4 linked regions of the Homo sapiens genome follow. The protein of the gene in region 3 purifies or fractionates together with the protein of the main gene of each other region. This does not show direct contact. Each region holds a gene or a part of one and is shown on either strand. Other genes may lie near its edges.

Region 1 (3,624 bases), on a different chromosome or scaffold from region 3:
TTCTCTGCACTCCTGGCTTGCTCCTCTGTTTCACCCGCTGGCTTGCTCCTTCTCTGCATCTCCCTCCCCTCTTATTCTCCTACCCCACAGCTCACTGTCTGCAGGCTGCCGAGGAGGCTGCTTCACCTACACCATGTCTCGAATCAACTTGCGGATCCGGGAGCAGCTTTTCTCCTCCCTGCTGCGCCAGGACCTCGGTTTCTTCCAGGAGACTAAGACAGGTGGGGCCTGGAGTCCAGGTCTGAGATTCCCATGGACATCCCTTGCCCCTCAGTGACCTTCCACCCACAGCCTCTCCTCCTGCCTTCACCCGTATGCCAGGACTTGGGGATGCTTTTCTCTTGTTTGGGACAGGGTGGAGAAGCAGCCTCCACTGTCCCTCTGCAAGTGAAGGAGGATGTTCAGAGGAGGGGGCTGTGTCAGAGGGAACGGTCAGGAGGGAGTTTCTGGGGGCCCTGCAGTACACATGGTTTCCTTTTTCCTCACCTGCTCTGTCCTTCTTAGGGGAGCTGAACTCACGGCTGAGCTCGGATACCACCCTGATGAGTAACTGGCTTCCTTTAAATGCCAATGTGCTCTTGCGAAGCCTGGTGAAAGTGGTGGGGCTGTATGGCTTCATGCTCAGCATATCGCCTCGACTCACCCTCCTTTCTCTGCTGCACATGCCCTTCACAATAGCAGCGGAGAAGGTGTACAACACCCGCCATCAGGTGAGCGTGCATGTAAGGGAACCCCAAAGGGAGAATAAAACTGACAGGTGAGGAGGCTTCCACATTTGTGGCTAGAGGATCCCCTAGAGAGAGATGTTCTCTTCTCAGCCATTAGGGGAGAAGGTATATTGTAGTATATACTACATTTTGTTTGTCCAGCCATCCAACAATGGATATTTGACTTCAGAAGATTCATGATTCTCCAGAACTGTAAACAAAAATGTAAAGTGTATGTGAAGGTATGGGGGAGGGAATAGGAAGGGGAGATGATAGGCGATGATAACTTTTCATTAGCTTCTCAAAGGAGTCTGTACATCCCCCGCCCCCACTGCGAAGATTAAAAATGGTTTCTTAGAGGCTTTTAGGCAGGGAGATTTTCCCTTTAAAATCAGCAGAAGAAGTCTGGATGCAGCATAGGGAAAGGAGGCGTCATCAGGAAGTCCTAAGTCTGAATGTCAGCTCCACCTTCTCTTTTTCTCTTATATTGTGGTAAAACATACATAACATAAAATTTACCATTTCAACCATTTGAAGTGTACAGTTCAGTGACATTTAGGAAACCCACATTGTTATTGGGTAACCATCATCACCATCCATCTCCAGAACTTTTTTCATCTTCCTAAAATGAAACTCTGTACCCACTAAATAGTAACTGCCTACTACCCCCAACCCCTGGCCGCTGGCAACCTCCATTGTACCTTCTGTCTCCATGAATTGTGATGACTCCCGGTGCGGTACGTAAGTGGAACCATACAGTATTTGTCTTTTTGTGACTGGCATATTTTACTTAGCGTAATGTCTTCAGGCCTCATCCATATTGTAGCATGTGTTAGAATTTCCTCCCTTTTAAGGCTGAATAATATTCTGTTGTGTGCATATATCACATTTTGATTATCCATTCATCTGTCAATGGACATTTGCGTTGTTTCCACCTTTTGGCTGTTGTGAATTATGCTGCTGTGGACATGAGTGTACACCTGTTTGAAACCCTGCTTTTGGTTCTTTTGGGTATATACTTAGAAGTGGAGCTGCTGGATCATATGGCAATTCTATTTAACAATTTTTGAGGAACCATGTATTAGTCCATTTTTACGCTGCTGATAAAGACATACCCAAGATTGGGCAATTTACAAAAGAAAGAGGTTTATTGGACTTACAGTTCCATGTGGCTGGGAAGACCTCAAATCATGGCGGAAGGTGAAAGACACATTTCACATGGCAGCAGACAAGAGAAAAGACAGCTTGTGCAGGGGAATTCCCCTTTTTAAAACCATTATATCTCGTGAGACTTATTCAATATCACAAGAACAGCATGGGAAAGACTTGCCCTCATGATTCAATTACCTCCTACCCAGTCCCTCCCACAACACATGGGAATTCAAGATCAGATATGGGTAGGGACACAGCCAGATCGTATCAAACCACCATACAGTTTTCCATAGCGGCAGCACCATTTTAAATTCCCACCAGCAGTGCATAAGGTTTCCAATTTCTCCACATCCTCATCAACACCACTTTCTGTTGTCTTTTTTTTTAATAGCCATTCTAATGGTGATTAGGTGATTAGGATTATCTCATTGTGGTTTTGATTTGCATTTCCCTAATGATTAGTAAATATTGAGCATCTTTTCGTGTGATTTTGGCCACTTATGTTTCTTTCTTGAAAGAATGTCTGCAAGTTCTTTGCCCATTTTCTGATTTTTTTTTAAGTTGTGGGAGTTCACTATATGTTTTGCCTATTAATTTCCTATCAGATATATGATTCACAAATATTTTCTTGTATTTCATGGTTGCTTTTTCACTCTGTTGCTAGAGTTCTTTGATGCACAAACGTTTTAAATTCTGATGAAGTCTGATTTATCTATTTTTTGTTGCCTGTGCGTTTGGTGTTATATCCAAGAAATCACTGCCAAATCTAGTGGCATGAGGCTTTTCTTCTACATTTTCCTAGGAGTTTTATAGTGTTAGCTCTTATGTTTAGGCCTCTGATCCATTTGGAATTACATCTCCACCTTTCTTAACTATCTGTGGCTCCTTGGGAAAACTACCCTTCTTTCCTGATTCAGACACTGGGGATGGGAAAATTACCTCAAATGAAGGTTAAAAAAATTGCATGTATCTCCTATACTACCTAACACTGAGAGCTCAATAATATTTTGTTCCCTTGCTCCTTCACTCTTATTCCTTCTGGAAAGAAGAGTAAGGAAGAGGGAGAGAAACAGTTTGGTATTTTTAGGTAGACTAGGGAGCATCTCACTGGCTGGAGTAAGATGTGGGGGCCTGCTGTCTTTGCACATCAGCCCTGGTGTTTGCTGGCCCTCTTTTCCAGGAAGTGCTTCGGGAGATCCAGGATGCAGTGGCCAGGGCGGGGCAGGTGGTGCGGGAAGCCGTTGGAGGGCTGCAGACCGTTCGCAGTTTTGGGGCCGAGGAGCATGAAGTCTGTCGCTATAAAGAGGCCCTTGAACAATGTCGGCAGCTGTATTGGCGGAGAGACCTGGAACGCGCCTTGTACCTGCTCGTAAGGAGGGTAAGATACCAGAGTGGTTGTGAAAGGAGCCCAGGAAAGGGGGAGGGCAAGGGAAGAGGAAACTACAGCTGGTTCTAGAGGCCTTTGCAGCTCAGTCTCATAGAGGCAGAGAGGGGGAAAGAATGGGAAGATTCCCAGCCTCATCTCTTTCTTCTCCTCTTCCAGGTGCTGCACTTGGGGGTGCAGATGCTGATGCTGAGCTGTGGGCTGCAGCAGATGCAGGATGGGGAGCTCACCCAGGGCAGCCTGCTTTCCTTTATGATCTACCAGGAGAGCGTGGGGAGCTATGTGCAGGTGAGCGAGAAGCCAAGCCTGCTCTCCTTTTTTCCCTCTCTTTTTCTTTGTGGACTCCTGGGCCTTGGGCTTTATTTGTTCTTTTTAACAATA
Region 2 (3,624 bases), on a different chromosome or scaffold from region 3:
GTAATTCAAAACCTCACTAAAGAAGGAACCATTAAAGCAGCATCCTCAATTTGCACTTATATTTCTACTTGTAATCCTCCACAGTTGATAAAATTAGAAATGTATCTGAAAACTTCTGATTTATACTGGAGTCAGAAAATAGTATAATTCAAAATGAGTTTTTAAAATTCTTACAAATTAACAATAAAAACAAACATACCAACAGAAAAAATGGGCAAAGGGCTGAATATGCAATTCAAAAAGGAAATCCATGTGGTCAATAAACGTGAGAATGTTTGCTCTCACAATAATCAAAGGAAAGTATATTAGAAACTGAGATCCCGGCAGGTGTGGTGGCTCATGCCTGTAATCCCAGCACTTTGGGAGGCCGAGGAGGGTGGATCACCTGAGGTCAGGAGTTCAAGACCAGCCTGACCAACATGGCAAAACCCTATCTCTACTAAAAATACAAAATTAGCCGGGTGTGGTGGCGCATGCCTATGATCCCAGCTACTAGGGAGGCTGACGCAGGAGAATCGCTTGAACCCAGGAGGCGGAGGTTGCAGTGAGCCGAGATTGAGCCACTGCACTCAAGCCTGGGTGACAGAGCAAGAATCCGTTTCAAAAAACAGCAACGACAACAAAAACAAAACTGAGATCCCTTCTACTGCCCAAACATTAGCAGGATGGGGGTGGGGGCACAGCCTGGTATAGGGAGTCAAGAGCCCCATCAGACCATGCACACATGGAGGTGGCCTGACGAGATGTTAGCCCGAGTAGGATGGGGAGGCATCCCTGTAAGAGGGCAGCCTGGTCTGGGGAATCTGAGGGTGAGTGAGATAAGCAAGGCATCCATATGGGAGAGGTGGAGACTATCCCGAAAGACTGGTTACATATGAGGGGTAATTAGGTAGGTAAAACATTAATCATAATAAGAATCAGGTTAGGACAGATGGAAAGGGCAGATGGAAAGGAGTGGTACATTCATACAACCAAATAATATTCAGCAATAAAAAGGAACAAATTACCAATAAATACAAGAACACAGATGAGTCTCAAAAACATTATGTTGAATGAAAGAAGCCTTATACCAAAGAGTACATGCATACTGTACAATTCTACTCATGAAGTTGTAGAACATGAAAAACTAATCTACAGAGGAACAAAACCAGAATAGCAATTGCTTCTTGGGGGACAGGTACAATGATTGACAGGGAAGGACATCAGGGAACTTTCTGGTTGATGGTAATTTTCTGTCTTGATAGATACACAGATGTGTGCATTTATAAAAACTCAGTTGACACACTCAAGATTTGTGTATTTTGTTGCACATAAATACTAAACTCTAGTTACTGATATGCACACTCAAGTATACAAGGAATTAAGTATACATATAATGGCACATACATTTTGGATTGGAAAGCTAGATGTAGGGATAGGTGTGCAATAAGAATAGGGAACTATTAATTACAGAATCTATGTGGTGGCTACATGAAGCTCACTCCAATTTTTTTCTGATTTCCTATAAGTTTGTTAATTTTCATAATAAAATATTGGAGGAAACCAATAGGAAAAAAGCTAGAATGAACCATGAGGTAGTACTAGAAATGGGAGTATAGTATAAACCCATGTTTTAAAAAATACATAGATCTAAAAATATACACATGTATACATTATCATACATACATACATATAATTCCATTGCTCTGTTCACTGAGAGGATCTGGGAATAGCAACACTCCAATAGCAATGAGCACATCTAGCACCCAGATCTTGGCTTCTAAATACCATTCTCCACTTTAAAGGAACCAGGGCTCCTTGAAGAAACAGCTGATTCTAGGACTGGATCAAGGAGAGCACAGGATGAGCCTGGTATATCTTGTTGTGCCAGAAAACAATTGCAAAAAAATAAAAAAATAAAAAGTGGGGTGTAGTGGCTCACACCTGTAATCTCAGTGCTTTGGGAGGCCAAGAGACAAGAGGATCACCTGAGGACTGGAGTTCGAGACTAGCCTGGGCAACATAGAGAGACCTTGTCTCCACAAAAAAAAACATTTAAGAAAGAAAATAAGCAGAGCTTGGTGGTGTGCACCTGTAGTCCCAGCTACTCAGGAGGCTGAGGTGGGAGGATCACTTGAGCCCAGGGGCTTGAGTTAACAGTGTGCTATGATCATACCACTGCACTCCAGCCTGGGCAATGGAGTGAGACCTGTACTGCATATGTAATTTCTTGTAGGACTGAAATTGTTTCAAAACATTTTTTAAAAATCATAAACAATGAGACATCATCCTACAACTATTCAACTAGGAAAGGGTAAATAAAATGCCTTCCTTGTTTGATTAGGATGTGGGGAAATGAACAGTTATAAATGCTAGTTGAAATGTAAACCTGAACATCCATTCTGGAAGGCGTTTGGCAACAAAATAGGAATTCTACTTCTAGGAATTATCTTTTGAAAATAATCATGGATGTGTGCAGAGATTTAGCTACAAGGACATTCACCACTCCAATTACAGAAGAGAAAACCAAGCACTAACGTCAATGTCCATCAACAAGGGATTAGTATAATTACACCATATCCATACCATGGAATATCACCTGTTATAATTTTATAACACTTCAGGGTGGAAAAAACAATTATGGCATACTAAGTTTACAAGGTTACAAAAATTGTTTTTTGAGACAGGGTGCCACTCTGTCCCCCAGCCCGAAGTGCAGTGGTGCGATCTCGGCTCACTGCAGTCTCAACCCTCTGGGCTCAAGCAATCCTTCCACCTCAACCTCTCGAGTAGCTGGGATTACAAGTACATGCCACCATATGCAGCTGATTTTGGGATTTTTTGTAGAGATGGGGTTTTGCCATGTTGCCCAGGCTGGTGTCAAACTCCTGAGTTCAAGTGATCCGTCTGCCTTCACCTCTCAAAGTGCTGGGATTACAGGAATGTGTTATGTTGTCCAGGCTGGAATGCAGTGGCTATGTTAAAGGCCTAGCCCAAGAAGAGCAGTGGCTGTTCACAGGCGCAATCATAGTGTATGCAGCCTTGCCTGGCTCAGCGTTTTTTAAAAAGTACACAAAGACTGAAGAATACACATTGAAAAGTTAACAATGGTGGCCACTGCTATACCCAAGTGTCGGGATAGTGGACAATTTCACTTTCTTCTTTTTTGCTTACTATTCTACAACAAACATTTTATAACAAAAACTCACATTTTACTTCTCAATTGAGCCCTTTTTAATATGGCATCTCCCAAGGATACCAAATTCCAGAGTAGAAAGAGGTCTCATAAATCAAAGTTCTACTGCACTCCAGCCTAGGTAACAGAGTGAGACTCCATGTAAAAAAAAAAAAAAAAAAAAAAAAAAAAAAGAAAGAAAGAAATCAAAGTTCTATCTCAGGAAACTGAAGTGCAAAAAAGAAAGGACTTGCTCTATGGCTGGTCAGTGGGACAGCTACACCTGGTTTCCAGTCCAAAGCTATTTCCACTCTGCTTCACTGCTTATCTCAACCACCTGCTTGGCAGGCCACAAAGTCCACCATCAGAAACTTTCATCAGTTTTGCCCATTTTGCTACCTTACTTCACTAAACGTGGACAGCAGCTTTCATAAAACCAGCAGGCTCCTACCAGAATAGAAGTTCTAGTG
Region 3 (3,624 bases):
ATACATATATGTGTTAACTGTGTATTCATTTTCTTTGTCCTTTTGTTGATCAAGGTCTTAGTGGTGGCCGTGTATATTTGAATATGTTTTCAGTTATTAACCCTTCATCATGTTATAGTTATTCTGGTCATTTTACTGATGCTTAATTGGTAAGAATCAATTTCACTTGGGATAAAAGTCAGAAAAACAGAAATTGTGAGTTCCTCTGTGAAGATCAAAGGACCTTCAAGGACCTCTGAATAGCCAAGAATAATCACTCCTATTTTTCATCTTCAGTGGAAAAAAGAACCCGTTATACCTTTCTAGCCTATTCTGGGATAAATAACAAATTTTATTTAGTGTAAACTAACAAAGAAAACAGTGGAAGTTAATGAAATGTAGTCTCTATAATTTGTTAGACTTTTCATTTTTTTTAATTTTTTATATTTATTTTTAGTTGGACTTTTTTTTTTTTGAGAGAGATTTTCACTTTGTTTCCCAGTCTGGAGTGCAATGGCGGGATCTCAGCTCACTGCAACCTCCATCTCCTGGGTTCAAGTGATTCTCCCTGCCTCAGCCTCCTTAGTAGCTGGGATTACAGGCGCATGCCACCACGCCCAGCTAATTTTTGTATTTTTAGTAGAGATGGGGTTTTGCCACGTTAGCTAGGCTGGTCTCTAACTCCTGACCTCAGGTGATCTGCCCGCCTTGGCCTCCCAAAGTGCTGGGATTACAGGTGTGAGCCACCACGCCTGGCCTGTTGGATGTTTTAAAAAAGTACTTACTTGATATTTTTCTTACCTCTATTCAAAGTAACTTTTGAAAGGCCAAAATCCGTCAGTTTAATATGACCCTCATTAGAAATAAGCATATTGTCCGGTTTCAAGTCCCTGCACACACAAAAGGCAAATATTAGATAACCAAAAAAGGGCTAGTTTTAATGTTAGAATTTCCAGAAAAAAAGAGTTACAAAGGAGGCAAACCCTATTTATTTCCTCCAAAATAAAGATACTCATTGATGGCTTTGAAAAGTACAGAAAACATCTCTCAAAAGCAAAACATCTTTCGTACTGTTTATCAGAATCTACAAAAAAGATAAATTAATACTAGATTATCTTTGGTATCATTGGTTAGATATTCCATTAAAATAAAGAAACCTTATTAGATAAAATCAACCTCAAGCCAGTTCAAATTTACATTTACTTTCTTTTTTTTCTTTTCTTTTTTTTTTTGAGATGGAGTTTCACTCTTGTCACCCAGGCTGGAGTGCAATGGCACAATCTCGGCTCACTGCAACCTCCGCCTTCCGGGTTCAAGCAGTTCTCCTGTCTCAGCCTCCCGAGTAGCTGGGATTACAGGCACCCACCACCACACTCGGCTAATTTTTGTATTTTTAGCAGAGACAGGGTTTCACCATGTTGTCCACTCTGGTCTCAAACTCCCGACCTCAGGTGATCCGCCCGCCTCAGCCTCCCAAAGTGCTGGAATTATAGGTATGAGCCACCACACCTGGCCTACATTTACCTTCTTAAAGGAAGGTAAGATTGAGATTTAATAAGTCACTTAATCTGACTTTCTTTGCATAGAGAAAAACATTGTAAATCAGTTGGACTACAAAATATACCACTTTTGTATAATGCAGAGGAGCGGAAAGGATTCAATACTCTTCACATAAAATGCCATACTTAATGGGCCGTGGTAGCTCATGCCTGTAATCGTAGCATTTTGGGAGGCTGAGGTGGGAGGATCCCTTGGGCCCAGGAGTTAAAGAGCAGCCTGGGAACCTTGTCTCTACAAAAAAAAAAAAAAAAAAAAAAAAAAAAAGCCAAGAGTAATGGCACACACCTCTACTCCCAGACACTTGGGAGGCTAAGGCAGGGGGATTGCTTGAGCCCCAGAGGTCGAGGCTGCAGTGAGCCAAGGTCAAGTCACTGCACTGCACAACCTGGATGACAAAGTGAGACCCTGTCTCAACAAAGAAAAAAATAAATAAATATGTAAATACAAAAATAAATAAATACATGCTATACTCATGTTCAAAGCAATATATTTTAAAAAACACAGGGAGATGAAAGAAGAGTTAATTTCTAAATGAATACAAGTTACTAGTAAACTTTAGATAACCTGGAAATAAGTGCAAGTGGTTACTGTGAATATCTGAGACTCAAATATGTAATTTGATTACTTGAATTTTTAAGTAATAATTTGGAGAAGTCAGTCTTTACCTGTGGATGATTCCATGTCTGTGAAGGTAGTCTAGAGCCAGTGCTACTTCAGAAATATATTTCACAGCCATCTCTTCATCAAAATAACCATATATATGTAGGAGAGACTTGACATCTCCCCCAATAAGATATTCCATTACCTTTCAAAAAAGAATTTAATATTGTGAAATAAAAACAATATGATTACTTTAAAAATCTAGTATTTGGGCATTACAGTTACAATATTTGGCATGGCTCTGTAATGAAACGACCTTTTCTTGCTATTACTCGTAATACATTAATACTAGGTTTATTCATGTTGCCATAACAGTTTTTAATTAAAAATTAAACTGTTTAGGCTGGGCACAGTGACTCACGCCTATAATCTCAGCACTTTGGGAGGCCAAGATGGGCAGATCACTTGAGGCCAGGAGTTCGAGACTAGCCTGGCCAACATAGCAAAACCCCGTCCCTACTAAAATTACAAAAAATTAGCTGGGCCTGGTGGCAGCTAATTTATACAAAAAATTAGCTGGGCCTGTAATCTCAGCTACTTGGGAGGTTGAGGCACAAGAATTGCTTGAACCCAGGAGGTGCAGAGTGGCCAAGATTGCACCACTGCAGTCTAGCCTGGGCAACAGAGGGAGACTCTATCTCAGGCTGGGGTGCAATTATGTGCAATGGTATCTCTATTAGCTAGCTGCATACCACCATGCCCAGCTAATTTTTACTTTAATTTTTTTGTAGAGATGGAGTCTCCTTATGTTCCCCAAGTTGGTCTTGAACTCTTGGCCTCAAGTGATCTTTCTGTCTCAGCCTCTCGAAGTGCTTGAATTACAGGTGTGAGCCATGGCCCCTTGGCCTGTCTCTCTATGTACATATACATACACATACACACGCACCGTATGCATATATCTTATTGGTTCTTTTTCTTTGGAGAACTCTAACTAATATAACAGGTAAATTTGCCAAGGCAGTGAGTGCAGCCAGAATTCAAATGCAAGCACTCTGAACCAAAACATGGTTCTCTTAAATCACTAGGTTCAATGACTGCTTAATGGATAAAGAAACAACATAAAAATTATTTACTCACCAAGTAGACATTGTTTGCAGACTGCAGTGAATAATACAAATGGACAATGAATGGGCTTTTGCTTAGTGCCAGTGCATCTCTCTCAGCTTGGACCTGATGAGTCATATTTTTGTTGATCATGTCTGCTTTTTTAACAACCTGTAATAGATAAAATAAAAGTGATATCATGTTATTTTATTTTGAGACAGAGTCTCATTCTCTTGCCCAGGCTGAGTGCAGTGGCATGATCAAAGCTTATTGCAGCCTTGATTTCCTAGGCTCAAGTTATCCTCCCACCTCAGCCTCCCAAGTAGCTGGGACTACTGGCACACATGACTACATCTGGCTACTTTTTAATTTTGTTGTAGA
Region 4 (3,624 bases), on a different chromosome or scaffold from region 3:
TAGAGCCTTGTAAAGCTGCTTTATCTGCATTAGTTCCCATCCTTATAACATCTCTGTAATGTAAGTTTATAATCCCCATATTACTGATGAGAAAGAGACCACAAGATTAAGAAACCTGCCAAAAGTTACACAGCCAAGGGATTGAGTGGAGCCTAATATTAAAGACTGTCTGACTCTTCAGCCCACATTATTGGTGTACTAGAGAGACAAGAATGGATGTCAGAAAACAGGTTCGGGGGGCAGTACGGGGTGGGATGGCTGAACAATCTATGGTCTTCTAGGATTTCCAGGTGCCAGGGAGCTGGAGGGTTAGAACTAGGTAAGCTTGAAAGTCCCTTCCACCTCTAACAGTCTACGATTCTATCACTACGGTTTATACTGCAAGTTGAGTATCCCTTGTCCAAAATGCTTGAGACCAGAAGTGTTTCAGATTTTAAACTTTTTCAGTTTTTGGACTATGTGCTTTATACTGACCAGTGAGCATTCCAAATTCAAAAATCCAAAATCTGAAATACTCCAATCATTTTTTTTTCCTTTGAGTATCATGTTGGTGCTCAAAAAGTTTCAGATTTTGGAGCATTTTGCATTTTGGAGTTTCAGGTTTGGAATGCTCAACCTGTACTTTAAAAAAGAACAAAGAGAAGACCTCAAAGGCTGAAATCTACATGAGGCAAAGAGTTCGCAGGATGCTCCAGGATCAAAGTAAGGAGAGCTACCACAATTGAAGACCTGAAAGTTGGCAGTAGAGATATGGGATCCAGAAACTAGGGTTCAATACAGAGAAGCAAAGGGAAATCCCAGGAAAAAGGTGAAGGAAGATCCCAGGACAAGAGCTGTGAACAGACATAAAGAGCAACCAGCTCATGCTGGACGACATAGACAGTACCCAGGAGAGGAGAATCATACTTCTACCGGATAATCCGGGCATGAACAAGAGATAAGGATACAAAAAGCCATGCTAATAAAAACAGTAACAAAAATTATTAATGCCAGGGAAGACAAAAAAGTTATACAAGATAGAATATGTTACCACAGGCAGGATGCAATGGCCCATTCCTGTAATCATAGTACTCTGGGAGGCCAAAGTGAGAAGATCACTTGAGGCCGGGAGTTTGAGACCAGCCTGGGCAATGTAGTGAGACCCCCACCTCTACAAAATATTTAGAAATTAGCCAAGCCTGGTGGCACACACCTGTGGTCCTAGCTACTCAGGAGGTAGAAGTGGGAAGGTTGCTTGAGCCCAAAAAGTTAAGGCTGCAGTGAGCTGTGATCCTGCTATGGCAGGGTGACAGAGAGAGACCCTATCTCAAAAAATAAATAAATAAATAAAAAGAGTAAAGAAAATATTAGTATATCATACTCCCTATTCAGTTGAGAATAATACTAACATAATTTTATTAATATAAATCTTGATATTAGCCTAACCAAAAATTATGAGCAAACTATATTGGGAGGATAAAGTGAGTAAGAGGAGGAGTAGGGGGAGGTTGATGATACAAGAGACCTAGAGCCTCAAAGTCCATAATAAAGAAGTACAATTGGACAGGTGTGGTGGCTCACAACTGTAATCCCAATATTTTGGGAGGCTGAGGCAGGAGGATCACTTGAACCCAGGAGGCAGAGGTTGCAGTGAACCAAGATCGTGCCACTGCACTCCAGCCTGGGCGACAGAGCAAGACACAGTCTCAAAAAAAAAAAAAAAAAAAAGAAAAGAAAAGAAAAGAAAAAATAAATATAGTGATGGCCAGGATCAGTGAGTGGCTCACACCTGTAATCCCAGCACTTTGGGAAGCTGAGGTGGGCGGATTGCTTTAGGCCAGGAGTTCTAGACCAGCCTGGGTAACATGGTGAAACCCTGTCTCTACTAAAAATACAAAAAGTAGGCTGGGCACAGCGGCTCAAGTCTGTAATCCCAGCACTTTGGAAGGCTGAGGCAGGAGGATCACCTGAGGTCAGGAGTTTGAGACCAGCCTGGCCAACGTGGCGAAACCACGTCTCTCCTAAAAATACAAAAAATTAGCCAGGCATGGTGGCAGGCACCTGTAATCTCAGCTACTCAGAAGGCCGAGGCAGGAGAATCACTTGAACCCGCGAGGCAGAGGTTGTGGTGAGGCGAGGTCGCACCACTGCACTCCAGTCTGGGCAACAGAGCGAAACTCCATCTCAAAAAAAAAAAGTGGGTCGGGAGAGGAAACTATTATTTAGTGTTACAAGCTCTACTGAACTATTTGACTGTTTAAACCATGTACATGTACAATTTTGACAAAAATTAAATTAAAAAATCCATGTATTATGAAGATATTATGGTATTGTTCAAGATAATGAATGGAGAAAGTAGCTTAATAGATAAGGAAAATGTTGAAAAGTTATTTTTAGTGCAAGCACTTTCTACTACCTAAGAACTTCTTTAAAGATGTTCAATAACAGAAATGATAACAAAATAAGGAATCTTAGAGGCATGAAGAGCCAACCTACAAATGGTAAACAGTGGCTACTTACTCTTTTCACTATGCAACATTTACAGTAACTCTATAGAAACTGTATCTACATACACAGGTCTGAAACAGAGGACTTCAGAAGTTGGTCTTGAGTACTGTGGAGAAGGAAAGAAAAACAAGGAAGATACAGAAGCAGCAGAGAAGAACAGTAGGGAGAAAAGACACTGCAAAGAAGCAGCAGTCAGGATGACCAGATAGCGAAAACATACCTGAGAAGGTTAGTTCCTCCTTACTCAAAGACTCTCAGAAAATCCATAGGAAAGCTGGAAAGAGAACACTATGAGATGCTCAGTCAATTAACTTCTGACTCTTTTTTTTTTTTTTTTTTTTGAGACAGAGTCTTGCTCTGTTGCCCAGGCTGGAGTGCAGTGGCGTGATCTCAGCTCACTGCAACCTCTGCATCCCGGGTTTAAGTAATTCTCCTGCCTCAGCCTCCCAAGTAGCTGAGACTAAAGGCTCACGCCAACATGCCCACCTAATTTTTTTGTATTTTTTGGTAGAGACGGGGTTTTGCCATGTTGGTCAGGCTGGTCTCAAACTCCTGGCCTCAAGTGATCCACCTGCCTTGGCCTCCCAAAGTACTGAGTACAGGCAGGAGCCACCACGCCCGGCCTGACTCTTTCAATAAAGGTCAAAGATACCTGATATGATTTCACAAAACTCCTTTCCTAGTTTAAGTGCCCCAAGTATACCTTTCTCCCCTTTAGGGGTCCTAACGAAACAGAGTAGAGCCTCAGACACTCCTGGACCCTGTCAGTTCCAAAAGGCAATGCCCAAACCTCCCTGAATGATGTGATTTCACAGGACTGAAGAATCTTACCTTTCTCCCTTCCACATACCGGTCTGAGCAGAGCCGAATAGCTTCATTTTAAACTAGAGTCTAGAAGTTAGAGGAGGGGGGCCAGGCAGAGGAAGGAGCGATGCTAACTGTAGACTGAGTATAAGACACCTTAAACACATACAATTTACCACTTACCAGATCTGATCCCTCAATTCTAACACTTTTCCTTTCTATGTCCCAATAAAATTGCCACAAATAAATGAACACTCCAACCCTATTCTTGTCTCAGCAAATAATTTGTTGAGCAACCTTAAGAATTAAAAAGGCAAAAAAACTGGCTAGACA

The links.
Region 1: the proteins of MASTL (region 3) and TAP2 purify together in Homo sapiens (affinity purification with mass spectrometry; one large-scale study listed by BioGRID and IntAct). This does not show direct contact.
Region 2: the proteins of MASTL (region 3) and DERL2 purify together in Homo sapiens (affinity purification with mass spectrometry; one large-scale study listed by BioGRID and IntAct). This does not show direct contact.
Region 4: the proteins of MASTL (region 3) and FASTKD5 purify together in Homo sapiens (affinity purification with mass spectrometry; one large-scale study listed by BioGRID and IntAct). This does not show direct contact.

The regions. Positions count from the first base shown.
Region 1 is NC_000006.12:32,832,240-32,835,863, reverse strand, and holds part of TAP2 (antigen peptide transporter 2), read left to right. Parts: intron 1-90; coding exon 91-221; intron 222-504; coding exon 505-710; intron 711-3,039; coding exon 3,040-3,237; intron 3,238-3,402; coding exon 3,403-3,531; intron 3,532-3,624. UniProt on the Homo sapiens protein: ABC transporter associated with antigen processing. In complex with TAP1 mediates unidirectional translocation of peptide antigens from cytosol to endoplasmic reticulum (ER) for loading onto MHC class I (MHCI) molecules.
Region 2 is NC_000017.11:5,476,179-5,479,802, forward strand, and holds part of DERL2 (derlin-2), read right to left. Parts: intron 1,822-3,624; coding exon of another isoform or gene 1,779-1,821; exon of another isoform or gene 1,671-1,778; intron 1-1,670.
Region 3 is NC_000010.11:27,158,339-27,161,962, reverse strand, and holds part of MASTL (serine/threonine-protein kinase greatwall), read right to left. Parts: intron 3,415-3,624; coding exon 3,277-3,414; intron 2,345-3,276; coding exon 2,205-2,344; intron 1,945-2,204; exon of another isoform or gene 1,825-1,944; intron 870-1,824; coding exon 781-869; intron 1-780. UniProt on the Homo sapiens protein: Serine/threonine kinase that plays a key role in M phase by acting as a regulator of mitosis entry and maintenance.
Region 4 is NC_000020.11:3,153,366-3,156,989, forward strand, and holds part of FASTKD5 (FAST kinase domain-containing protein 5, mitochondrial), read right to left. Parts: intron 1-3,624. UniProt on the Homo sapiens protein: Plays an important role in the processing of non-canonical mitochondrial mRNA precursors.